Homo sapiens: one gene and its partners. The protein of the gene in region 3 interacts with the protein of the main gene of each other region in a biochemical or structural test. Each region holds a gene or a part of one and is shown on either strand. Other genes may lie near its edges.

Region 1 (2,411 bases), on a different chromosome or scaffold from region 3:
GCCCTTGCTGAGTTAGCACCACTGCCGCAGCACCCTGGCAGTGGGCTGTACTGGGGACTCAGAGTGTTTCTGGCTGGCACCATTCATGGACATGGCCCAGCTCCACCCACAGGCACACCCTTATCAATTCTGTGACCTCTTGGGACCGCAGGTTTGCCTCTTCTAAACATGGATTGTTAACACTCCCAGGAGGCTCCAGGATGACCCACGCATGTAAGTGATGCACCCACACTTTAGTCCCTGTCCCCTCAACGAGACGCCCAAGAGCGCCCTCTGCAGGCCCCGACTGTCTGAAGTCTCCGGCTTTCTTGCTGATTATACCTCATCTCCTTCCCTCTAGGGAGGCAGGAACACTTCTATGTACCTCTTTTGGAGAGGCTGGGAATGGGGAGAGAGATCAGAAGCCCCAGGACCTGGGCCCCAGCCAGCCCTCCCATCTCCAAGAGCATAGGCCCCTGGCACTGCCCGCTCCCAGGAAGGAAGAAACCCACACGACTAACCAGTGTCTGAGAGCATTTTTATTACGGGCAGCAGAACGGGATCGCAGCATCTTAGAAAGCCTATTCTCTGCCGTGGTGGGGAGTAGGGAGCAGAGGGAAGGACCCAGCACACTTCAAGAAACCAGGCGGGTGTGAATTCCTGAGTGAGCTTGGGGCAGCAGTGGGTGGCTGCTCCACAGCTCGCCCCTCCTCCAGAGGACCCAGCTTTTTGGTTTTGGAGCAGCCAGGGCTGTTCGCCAGCTTGCTCAGAGCCTACCCTGAAGGCATGGCTGGCAGGAGCAAGCCGCCCAGGCCCAAAGGAGAGACACCCACTGGCTCGAAAGCCAAGCCTCTGCTGACGGGGCCAACCCTGGGGTGCCAGTGCCAGGGCTGAGAGTCCCTGAGGGGCTGCCGGCACACAGGTATCCTCCCGTGATGAGCAGAGTGCAGTGAGGGGTTGACAGGCAGGCAGAGCTACGTTGGCAGAAATACGAAGCAATGGGACAGTTTCCAAGAATGGCAACATTTCTGGATCCAGAGAAGCAACAAGAACAAATGGTGGCTTGTTTGGATAGCTGACAGAATTTGGCATTTTATTACAAACTGGAGTGTGAGTGAAATAAAATCCATCATCACTTTTCTGCTAATGAAGACAGATGTGGAAACGCCAGCCCGGTGCCCTTGCCATCCCGGGCACAAGGGAGTCTCCAGAAACCTGCCCTTGGCGTACCTAGGACAAAAGAAGCCGAGTTCGTGTACACACCGCAGGGGCCATGCGCCTGAACAATGTTAGGCTGCCGAACCTGCCCATCACTCCCCACTTCTGCACAGACCAGACCAAGCTGTCTTACACGCCTGTAGGCCCCGGAAAGATCTCAAGTTATAGAATTAAAATTAAAACAAAAAGCAAAGTTTAAGTCATCTTCTCCACAGGATCTAGTCCCCCCCAAGAGCCAAGAAGGGAAGCCGCCAGTGGCAGAAGCGGGGTTGGTGACACACGGCATTTGGATCGTCGGCTTCCTTGGGGTGTCAGAGCGACATGGATTCTCTACTAGTGCGGGGACAATCCCATTTGCCTTGAAAAGACATTAATATTCAAATCTTTACAAGTTTATCTGACGATAAATTCTAAGGTCAATTTTTATTTCTACAAAAAAAGGCAGTCAAAACAATATAAAACACATTGAAAGGATATTACTGAGTGAGCTTCAAGTGGAGCTTGACTCTGCAAAGGCTGTGAGTCCGAAGGGAGAGGAAGTCCGTCTTGTTCCCGGGCTGGGCTGGCTGCTCTGGAGGAGGGGGTCAGCAGGGGCCCAGGCGACCCCAGACTGGTGCTTTAAATAGCCGAGTCCTGCTAATTCCAATCCTACAAAGGGTCAAAGTGTGCCGAGGGAGGGCTGTGGCAGGGCCACTGCACGGAGGAAGTGGAGAGCAAGCTCCGTGGCACATTCGGATGAAGCTCGGTGACAGATGAGCTAGGAGTTTCAAACGGACATTCTGGCTGTAGCTTTGCCTGCAAGGACCAGCAGATCTTCTACAATGGCTGCAGGGAGAAGTGCCAACCTGGGACCTCAGGAGCCTTTCTGGCGAGATTCATCACACACAGTGTGCACAGCATCCTCCTGACTAGCAGGCCCCCCATTTCGGGGCCACCACAGACCTGTGATTATAGGGCTTCTCTGTGCAGGCCAGGCCAGAGGTCAGTTACACACACTGACATCAGGGCTTGCCCAATTAACTGATGTTACTGTGGTAACATCAGCTGGAGTTTCACACAAGAACTGAGGAGAAGGACTGGAGGAGGGGTGTGGCTGTTTGTTTTTAAATTTTTTAAAAGGATGTTATAAACTGGAGTCAGGAGAATTTAAACCAACTCCCACACTGGGCAACAGTGCCACACATGCTAAGAAAAGCCACCAGGACCGCCAGGGC
Region 2 (3,500 bases), on a different chromosome or scaffold from region 3:
CGTGAGCCACCATGCCCAGCGCCATGCTTCTTGTACAGCCTGCAGAAGCTTGAGCCAAATTAACCTCTTTTCTTTATATATTACTCAGCCTCGGGTATTCCTTTACAGCAACACTAATGGACTAAGACAGGGGTATCAGTGTGTCCTGCCTGAAGGGGCTTCTTTCTGGGCTTCGTAGGACTTAACAGAGGAAGGAGGTAGCAGAGTCATGGAGCTGAGAGCTCCGGGGACCTGTCCCAGCTCTGCCTCGGGCTTGCTGTATGACTGAGCTTTCTCTGAGGATCAGTTTCCTCGTCTGTAAAATGGAGAAGCTGGACCAGAGGATTCCATGCTGTATCTTACAGTCAGTTGAGAAAGTCCCACTACCTTCTAAGTTCTAGGTTAAATAAAGGATTTTGCTACTTTATTTTGTTTTGTTTTTTTGAGACAGAGTTTTGCTCTTGTCATCCAGGCTGGAGTGCGATGGCCCAATCTCAGCTCACTACAACCTCCAACTCCCGGGTTCAAGTGATTCTCGTGCCTCAGCCTCCTGAGTAGCTGGGATTATAGGTGCCCACAACCATGCCCAGCTAATTTTTGTATTTTTACTAGAGACAGGGTTTCACCATGTTGGCCAGGCTGGTCTCAAACTTCTGACCTCCAGTGATCCACCCACCTCAGCCTCTCAAAGTGCTGGGATTACAGGTGTAAGCCACCGTGCCCGGCCTGCTACTTTTTAAAAAATTTTGAAAACTATTCATTTTTCATGGAGTGGTTAAAAGAGAAGACCCTGGAGTCCGCTGAATTCCACTCCTGCCACCTTATTCTGAGTGACCCCAGACCAGTTACTTAACCTCCTTGGTTTCCATCTCTGCAATTTTAAGAGGAAGACAACCTTCCTCACTGGATGGTTGAGAGGATTCAATATGACCTCATATGTCGTGTGCTTAAAACAGCACTTGGTCCACAGGAAACTCTCAAGGAATGAGAATTTTACTATTAGCTTCGAAAGACTCATCGAGCTGAATCCTTCCATGACCAAGATGTGACAAGTGGGGCCACTTTGGTGAACACATAAACTGAGACTGAGCCTTTGAGGAGGAATTTGTGTGCTATTCCAAAAGACCTTTCCTGGTTCTCCTTCCTCTGCCAGTCAACCATCCCCTCCTTTATGGCCTCACCAGGCACCTTCAGGCCCCCTTAGCTGATGACTTACATCAAGCTTTGGTCCTCCAGCTCTGGGATTCCTCCCAAGTATCATGTTTCTTCAGGACTCCTATATGGCTGGAAGGTCTGTGGCCAGTTCCTGGGGCGCACTTAACCACCTTGGTCTTGCCAACTATTGAGGTCCTCTGATTTCATAGTACTCTGCCAAACGAGACCTTTCCTAGGTTTTCCTATCACCCCTGCTTTCATCATCTCAAAGTTGGTCTCCTTGGAGATATAATCAGTCCCTGGAGCTCCTTTGAGCATCTTCTCCCGGCACCTGAGGCCTAGAACAGGTGTCCTCACTCTAAGCCAGGTAAGTGGATCGTTTCAACACAGTAACCCAAGGGACTTGACAGAGGTTCCCATGTTGACCTGACTCAGGCCTTTCTCTACTTTTCTGGACTATAGGTCAGTTTAAAGAGAAGACGACACAACCTAGGCCACTGCATTGTCAATAAAAAGTAAATCCTGCCGGGTGTGGTGGCTCCACCTGTAATCCCAGCACTTTAGGAGGCCGAGGTGGGCAGATCACTTGAGGCCAGGAGTTTGAGACCAGCCTGGCCAACATAGCAAAATCCTGTCTCCACTAAAAACACAAAAATTAGCCAGGCATAGTGGCACGTGCCTGTAGTCACAGCTACTCAGGAGGCTGAGGCAGGAGAATCGCTTGAACCCCAGAGTGGAGGTTGCAGGAAACGAACATCGCATCACTGCACTCCAGCCTGGGTGACACAGTAAGACTCTGTCTCAAAAAAAAAAACAAGTCCAAATCCTAAATGATAAGATGAATTGTTCCTTTGATATTCCAAAGAGCTTTGACTAACAAAAAGTTCAATGTCTTAAATTTTATTTCCAAGTAATGAAAAGTGTAGATTAATTTCTCAAAGTATCTTTAGTCACTAATAATCGGATGAAAAAAAGAGAGATCTTGCACTCTGAAAACTATTTTGGAATACTGCTTTCAGAGAGACTTTATCAAGAAAATACCAAATAATAAACAGAGAAAAATAAGAACAGTAGAAATGAGCTATTTGTGTTTTCATATGTAACAATTTTCTGAAATAAGACTACAGAAAAACAAAATACAATTTAGGTTTGCGGGAGCAAATTCTCCCAACTGTGAGAGCCTGGAAGTTTATCCCTACCCCTTGACAAAGGTCCAAGAAATCTTTATTTCTTCTTCTTTTTGATGCTGTTTGTCTCCTGAAGTTCTGTGGTGGGCTTGGTGGCTACCGGTTTAAGGAAGGGGTCTCCTACTAAGTCAAAAGTCCTTTGGCATCTTTATCAGAAGGTGAACCTCAGAAGTATCTGGATCTCAGAAGCAATCAATTCAGAGAGAAGCCCCCTCCAGCAATGATAACCTCCAGTAAAAGGATCTCAAGCAGGGAAAATTCTTGCCTAGTCCTAACCCTCCCTGCCCATGTCCCTGGCCTAATTTGGCCCCAATCCAAAGCCATGGTCCCCATGGATACTCACGGGTAGGAGGAGAGCGTGCCACACCAGGACATTGGCATCATCGCTGGACAGGTTCCGCAGGTATGGGGGAGGCTTCTTCTGAAGATCCTCCAGCTCCTGCAGGGGACACAAGTGAGTGGGCAGTTGGCCTAGTCCTCCTTATTTCAGCCCCCTCCCCCTGCCCCAGCAGCAAGCTGCCCCAAGTTCAAAACTGGCCATCTTAGGGGCAGAAGCCGGTAAAGTCAGAGCCTACATTTACTGAGCACTTAGTATGTATCAGGCATGGTGCTGGTGCTTTTTCTTTTTTCTTTTTTTTTTTTTTTGAGACAGAGTCTCGCTCTGTTGCCCAGGCTGGAATGCAGTGGCGCAATCTCGGCTCCCTGCAAGCTCCGCCTCCTGGGTTCACGCCATTCTCCTGCCTCAGCCTCCCGAGTAGCTGGGACTACAGACGCCCGCCACCACGCCCCGCTAATTTTTTGTATTTTTAGTAGAGACGGGGTTTCACCGTGTTATCCAGGATGGTCTTGATCTCCTGACCTCGTGATCCGCCCGCCTCAGCCTCCCAAAGTGCTGGGATTACAGACGTGAGCTACCGCGCCCAGCCGGTGCTGGTGCTTTAAGTGAATTTTCTGACTGTGGCCTCACCACAACTCTGGTACACCTAGGTACTAGGTGCAGGGAAAAATAGATCACTTCTCCCAGATATTAAAACTTGGGAGTAAGTGCTCTTAGGAGGCTTTTCTCCTGAAAGCAGGGTACTTAACCTCTGCTCTCTAGCCTTCTTCCTAGAAAGTCACTAGGTTCTAATTCCCTTCCTCTCTTCCTTTCTTCCTTCCGTAAGCATCGACTGAGCATCT
Region 3 (3,500 bases):
GAATGCTTACAAATCAATAAGAAAACATAGACAATCCAATAGAAAAACGGGCAGGGGACTTAACAGGCATTTCACAAAAGGATATGAAAAGTGCTCAACATCATCAGTCATCAGGAAAAAACACATTAATGCCACATTCAGAGACAACACACCTAATAGGATGGCTAAAATTAAAAGACTGACATTTCCAAGTGTTAGCAAGGATGTGGAAGAATAGGAACTCTCTTACACTACTCGTGGGAGTGTAAAATGGCACAATTACTTTGGAAAACTGTTTAACAATATCAAATTGGAACACAGAGATGCCCTATTACCCAACAATTTCACTCCTAGAAAGGAATGCATAAGAAAAATGAATGTACACATACATTAAAAGACATACTTAACAATGCTCACAATAGCATTAGTAATAATATTCAAAATATTGGAAACAACCCATAATTTTATCAACTGTAGAATGAATACATAATTTGTGGTATATTCACACTCTAAAGCAATGAAGCAATGAAAAGGAATAAAATACTGCTACACACAAGACAGGACTCTCATACAAAAGAGTATGTGGTATAATTCTATTTATAAAAAGTTCCAAACAGAGAGAATTAATGTACAATGTTAGGAGTCAGGATTGTGGCTACATTTTGTGGTGAGGCACAAAGGGAACTTTTTTTGTTTTTTTGAGACACAGTCTGTGTCTGTTGCCCAGGCTGGAGTGCAGTGAAGCAATCTCGGCTCACTGCAGCCTCCATCTTTTGGGTTCAAGCAATTCTCCTGCCTCAGCTGGGATTACAGGCATGCGCCACCATGCTGGCTAATTTTTGTATTTTTAGTAGAGACAAGGTTTCACCATGTTGGTCAGGCTGGCCTCGAACTCCTGACCTCAAGTGATCCGCCCGCCTTGGCCTCCCAAAGTGCTGGGATTATAGACGTCAGCCACAGTGCCCAGCCAAACTTTCTTAATATGTGCAGTATGCATAGTGGTTACAAAGGTATGTTCACTTTGTGATACATACACGACCCAGAAACTCATGATTAATGTGCCTTTTTCTATGTGTTTTTTTCCTCCTATGGCTGACCTCCTAATTAACATGTGTTCTCTGGAAAAACATTTCACTCAAACAAACTTCACCTCATGTCCCTCGGTTTATATTTCCCTTCACAAACACAGGATAGATAAGGAACAGTCAGAGAGCTCAATCTATACAAATACAGTTATGCATCACTTAATGATCAGGATACATTCTGAGAAATGTGTCATTAGGTGATTTTGTCGTGTGATCACAGAGCACACTTACACAAACCTAGATGTTATAGTCTATTACACACCTAGGGTATACTGTATAGATTATTGCTCCTAGGCTACAAACCTGTACAGTATGTTACTGTAGTGAATACTGGAGGCATTTGCAACACAATGATATCTGTGTACCTAAACACAGATGTTTCATTTCTTTGGCTCTCCGATATCCTGCCAGTGCCTCACACTGGGTAAATCCAACCAGAAGCCAACTGCCTCTAAGGCAGTCCTTAGAGGTCAACCTCCTGGGGCACAGAGCAGGGTAGAGAAGGCTGAATGAGAGTAGATCTGGACATGCAAACAAAAAACATCCAGTATTGTATGTATAAAGAAGAGAACTTGGGAGTCAAAAGACCTGGCTCAGCTATTTTTTGTTATCATATCCTAGGTAAGATATATTCCTGAATCAGTGATCAGGACCACAAAATATGGATGATACCACTCACCTCAAATAGATGTTCTAAGAATAATATGAAATTGACATGTGTTAAACCTGCCTAACAAACCCGGCACCGTACTAAATGTTAGCTGAAATGGAATGTAAGATAACCTAGTGCTTTACAAAATGTGTACCTTATAGCAAGTGCTTAGTATTAAATGAATGAATGATGCTTTTCAGTTGCTATTACTCTGTGATCCTTAAGCCATACGGCCTTACTACATCCAGTTTTTTAACTGTGGAAAGACAAGAACCTTTTACCTTCAGAAGTGCTTCAGGATTCGTAAAACATGTTAAGTATCCTGACACTACAACTTCAAGAATTATACATTTATAATATCCCACCAATAAACATCTAACCATAAACACTTCAGCAGCATCTAATAGCCACCTATCTGCCTAAATGATTTACACATCATTAGAAAGGTATTCTGGAAATGAAGAAGGCAGGGCAAAAAGTTTGCATACACAGAAAACACTTACTTCCCAAGAGGAAAACCTACTACATGGTCAAATAACAGTTTTTGCTTCTGTTATTCAGCTAAAATTAGGTTTCTTCTGTCACTTCTCAAACAGCTTAAAATATGGAGAAAATCCAGTAATTTTGTGCTGATGGTCAAAATACTAAATGTAAGAGCAGTGTACCTATGTCTTCTAATTTTAATTTGTTTTTTAGATGTCTGACATCCAGATGTATGGTACTTCTAAAATAAGCATGCAATAAAAACAGCATGTGACAATATTTACTAGCACTGTTGAACAGAAAGAGGACTAAGTCTTTTTTTTTTTTTTTTTTTTTTCAAGTAAAGATGGAATAGGTACAGATAATTCCCAGCAGAGTTTCTACTGATCACTAACTTGGTCACTACAGAAGCTTAAAGCTATTCTATACTCAAGTGAAACTGTCAATAAAGAAGACAAATAAAAAATACTATGTTAAATGCTGTATTCTGTATTACAAAAGAATAACAAGCTATTAAACTTCAGCACATGCTTATGTTGAGAAGATAATAAAGAATAAAAAAAACAAATTTAACTTTAATGGCTATGTATTTGCATGTGAGATTGGGAATCCACGAGGAACATTTGCTTTGATAGCAAAGATATTTTTAGTATTGTCTCACTACAAGTCATTTACATTTCACTTTCTGTGCACTAGGCACATGTTTATATCCTGCTGCAGCACTTTTCCTTACTGATGTGTAAGACATAGTTCTATTTAATAAAGAGGCTTGCTATCATATGGGTGTGTGTGTGTGTGTGTGTGTGTGTGTGTGTGTACGTATAAATTGTATTTGACTATATGGCAATTTTCCAATGTAGAAATTTCAAAAGTTTTTAACGTGCTCAAATTCACATATCTTTCTGACTTTTGACTTCTACACCAGCCTTAGAAAGCCTTGCCCACTCTAAGATTATATTTTTAAAATCCCTTCACATGTTTTCTACTGGTAATTTGATAGTTTATGAATAAGTAGAGATCAAAATTTGTTTTCTAAATGGCTAGCCAGTTACCTCAACACCAGTTACTGAATAATGATCTTTCCTCCATGCCCCACCCCCTACATACATACTGATTTAATTTTTTAATTTCTTATTTTTGAGACATTTATTTATTTATTTATAAATTATTCCATTGCTCTATAAGCTTACCAAGTCTTCTTTTGGAGGATGAAACCTAATTGTTACATATTTACTTTCTGGTACTTTTCAATCTTTCTTGTGCAGCGGTGCCCAAACTTTTTGGTACCAGGACCAATTTCA
Region 4 (3,500 bases), on a different chromosome or scaffold from region 3:
GCTTTTCTTTCTTTCCAGGAAAGGAGAGTACTGGCTATCTGGACCTTGTGAAAAGATTTTTAGTACACTACTTAGCTTCTTGATTTCATGAAGAATTCATTTTGGTTTCTAATATACTGATATGGTTTGGATCTGTGTCCCCACACAAATCTCATGTTCAACTGTAATCCCCAACGTTGGAGGTGGGGCCTGGTGGGAGGCGACTGGATTATGGGGGTGTATCCTTCATGAATGGTTTAGCACGACCCCTTTGGTGCTGTTCTTGTGATAGAGTTCTCATGAGATCTGGCTGTTTAACAGTGTGTGGCACCTCCCCCATCTCTCTCTTGGTCCTGCTACTGCCATGTGAGACAGGTGGCTCCCCCTTTGCCTTCTGCCATGAGTAAAAGCTCCCGAGGACTCCGCAGAAGCAGATGCTGCCATGCTTTCTGTATAGCCCACAGAACTGTGAGCCAATTAAACCTCCTTTTTTTTTGAGACGGAGTTTCACTCTTGTTGCCCAGGCTGGAGTGCAATGGCGCGATCCCAGCTTCCTGCAACCTCCGCCTCCCGGGTTCAAGCGATTCTCCCGCCTCAGCCTCCCAAGTAGCTGGGATTACAGGCATGCACCACCAAGCCAGGCTAATTTTTGTATTTTTGGTAGAGATGGGGTTTCTCCATGTTGGTCAGGCTGGTCTCAAACTCCCGACCTCAGTGATCTGCGCATCTCGGCCTCCCAAAGTGCTGGGATTACAAGAGTGAGCCACCGCACCTGGCAAAACCCTTTTCTTTATAAATTATCCAGTCTCAGGTATTTCTTTATAGCAGTGCAAGAATGGACTGATACATATACTATACCTTCTTCTGTAAAGATAGTAACTCTTATTTCTATAACCTGTATAGTCTCTTCACTGAACTTTTACCTATATATATTCTTCATCAGTATTACTTTTTTTTTTTTTTTGAGACAGACTCTTGCTCTGTTGCCCAGGCTGGAGCACAGTGGTGTGATGTTGGCTCACTGCAACCTCTCCCTCCCAGGTTCAAGTGATTCTTGTGCCTCAGCCTCCCGAGTAGTTGGGACTATAGACACACACCACCCTGCCCTGCTAATTTTTGTATTATTGGTAGAAATCAGGTTTCACTATGTTGGCCAGGCTGTTCTTAAACTCCTGACCTCAAGTGATCCACCTTCCTTGGCCTCTCAAAGTGGATTACAGTCATGAGCCACTGCGCCTGGCCAGTATTACTTTTTCACTAGTGTTACAGCAACAGTTACTTTCACTTCTAAAAACATATAATCAAATGGCTTTATGGCACACTTATCTGCTTCCCTTCAGTTTTTTTCAGTGTTTTTGTTTTTGTTTTTTAAATATTTAGGTCCCCATCACGGACCTTCAAAGTAGAGTGAATACTGGGTCAAAATTTCTGTCCTTGAAGACAGACTATATGTTAAAGGAATAATATCATATACAGGATTAAGGCATTTCATAGAACTACTTGCCCATACATTCAATTTACAAAAAGGGACTCATTAAAACCTTAAATCTGAGACAGTTAATACAATCAAATTCAACAAAATGGCACTGCAACTATTTTAAAGGATAGCTATCCAGATAGAGAGAACCTAACAAATCAGACTTGTAACAGTCCTTATCATTTGGAATAGCTGAAAAAAAATCAACGCTAGGCAAGGGGAAGAACAAAAAGAGGTATGGCAATAATTTCAGCTATCTTGTGTCTCCAACACCTCACCCCACCAAACACACACCTCTCACACAATTCTACTTATCTTGGTCCCATTACTAGATTTACATCTCTATTGCTATTTGGTGAAGGAAGTGCAACCAATGGGACCCTCACCAGGCCAGGCACAGGTCCACAAACACTTTCTCAAGTAGCTCTTGAATTGTAAGGGGGCCTACCAAAAGAAAAGGGGACACTTCTCTAAAAAACTATTTCATTAAAGTTGTAATAACTTTAAAAAAATGTGGTTCTCTGGCATCCTGTTTTTATTTCTGCCTGGGACTCCAAAAATTTTAAATTAATGTCTCAGAGTTTTGTTTGCTTTAAAAAATTAATTTGTGGCCAGGAGCAGTGGCTCACACCTGTAATCCCAGCACTTTGGGAGGCTGAGGCGGGCGGATCACCTGAGGTTGGGAGTTCGAGACCAGCCTGACCAACATGGAGAAACTCCGTCTCTACTAAAAATACAAAATTATCTGGGCGTGGTGGTACATGCCCTATAATCCCAGCTGCTCAGAAGGCTGAGGCAGGAGAATGGCTTGAACCCGGGAGGTGGAGGTTGTGGTGAGCCGAGATTGCGCCACTGCACTCCAGCCTGGGCAACAAAAGTGAAACTCCTTCTCAAAAAAAAACAAATAATAATAATAATAATTTTTTTTTAAGATTGAGTCTTGACATCCAAGTGATAACATGACAAATACCCAACACTTTTGACAACTGTGCCTTTATCCCCAGTTTTTGGAGTACTTACAAGGAACCAGTTAACTGTCTGTTTTTGCTTCTTTAATCTTCGTAACAACAATGAAATATGTATTATTGTTCCTTTTCTACAGATGAAAAAACTGAGGAATACAGGGGCCAATGTGTCTCTAGCCTCATTTAATAAGAGGTGGATCTGAGATCTGAACACAGGCAATTGGATCTAGAATCTATGTTCTTTACCATGAAACTATGTTGCTTCCTGTCTAAATACATGCATTAAACAAATGGTAAATTATAAGCAGATAATTTCTACTTAATGGTTCAAATGGTAAATTATAAGCAGATAATTTCTACTAAAAATACAAAAATTAGCCAGGCGTGGTGGTGGGTGCCTGTAATCCCAGCTACTTGGGAGGCTGAGGCAGGAGAATTGCTTGAACCCGGGAGGCGGAGGTTGCAGTCAGTCAAGATCACACCATTGCACTCCAGCCTGGGCAACAAGAGCGAAACTCCCTCTCAAAAAAAAAAAAAAAAAAAAAAATCACACACCACATTTCACCACACAAATACCAAAACTAACATTGCTTGTCTATTTCTGGACACTCAACATACTTTTATATGTAACTCTTGTTACAGTGTATATGCCTTTTTTCTTTTTTCTGCTTTTCTCAAGCACAGTATTTTCCTATTTTCACAATATTTGTAAAGATCAATACTTTTTTTTTTTTGGAGACAAAGTCTCCCTCTGTCACCCAGGCTAGAGTGCAATGGTACCATCTTGACTCACTGCAACCTCCGTCTCCCGGGTTCAAGTGATTCTCCCGCCTCAGCCTCCTGAGTAGTTGGGACTACAGGCACGCACCATCACACCTGGCTAATTTTTTGTATTTTTAGTAAAGATGGGGTTTTGCCATGTTGGCCAAGCTGGTCTCGAACTCCTGGTCTCAAGTCATCTGCCCATCTCAGCCTCATAAAGTTCTGGGATTACAGGCATGAACCACTATGCCTGGCCAGGGTCAATACTCTTTTAAATGCATGTGCTGGAACCGATCTATTTTTTCCTCTACTGTAAG

Evidence for each region.
Region 1: the proteins of RNF19A (region 3) and UBE2L3 form a complex in vitro, tested with the Homo sapiens proteins (3 studies listed by BioGRID).
Region 2: the proteins of RNF19A (region 3) and UBE2L6 form a complex in vitro, tested with the Homo sapiens proteins (one study listed by BioGRID).
Region 4: the proteins of RNF19A (region 3) and UBE2D2 form a complex in vitro, tested with the Homo sapiens proteins (one large-scale study listed by BioGRID).

What each region holds. Positions count from the first base shown.
Region 1 is NC_000022.11:21,622,124-21,624,534, reverse strand, and holds the end of UBE2L3 (ubiquitin-conjugating enzyme E2 L3), read right to left. Parts: 3' UTR 501-2,411; downstream 1-500. UniProt on the Homo sapiens protein: Ubiquitin-conjugating enzyme E2 that specifically acts with HECT-type and RBR family E3 ubiquitin-protein ligases.
Region 2 is NC_000011.10:57,557,673-57,561,172, forward strand, and holds part of UBE2L6 (ubiquitin/ISG15-conjugating enzyme E2 L6), read right to left. Parts: intron 2,761-3,500; coding exon 2,665-2,760; intron 1-2,664. UniProt on the Homo sapiens protein: Catalyzes the covalent attachment of ubiquitin or ISG15 to other proteins. Functions in the E6/E6-AP-induced ubiquitination of p53/TP53. Promotes ubiquitination and subsequent proteasomal degradation of FLT3.
Region 3 is NC_000008.11:100,289,454-100,292,953, forward strand, and holds part of RNF19A (E3 ubiquitin-protein ligase RNF19A), read right to left. Parts: intron 1-3,500. UniProt on the Homo sapiens protein: E3 ubiquitin-protein ligase which accepts ubiquitin from E2 ubiquitin-conjugating enzymes UBE2L3 and UBE2L6 in the form of a thioester and then directly transfers the ubiquitin to targeted substrates, such as SNCAIP or CASR.
Region 4 is NC_000005.10:139,616,839-139,620,338, reverse strand, and holds part of UBE2D2 (ubiquitin-conjugating enzyme E2 D2), read right to left. Parts: intron 1-3,500.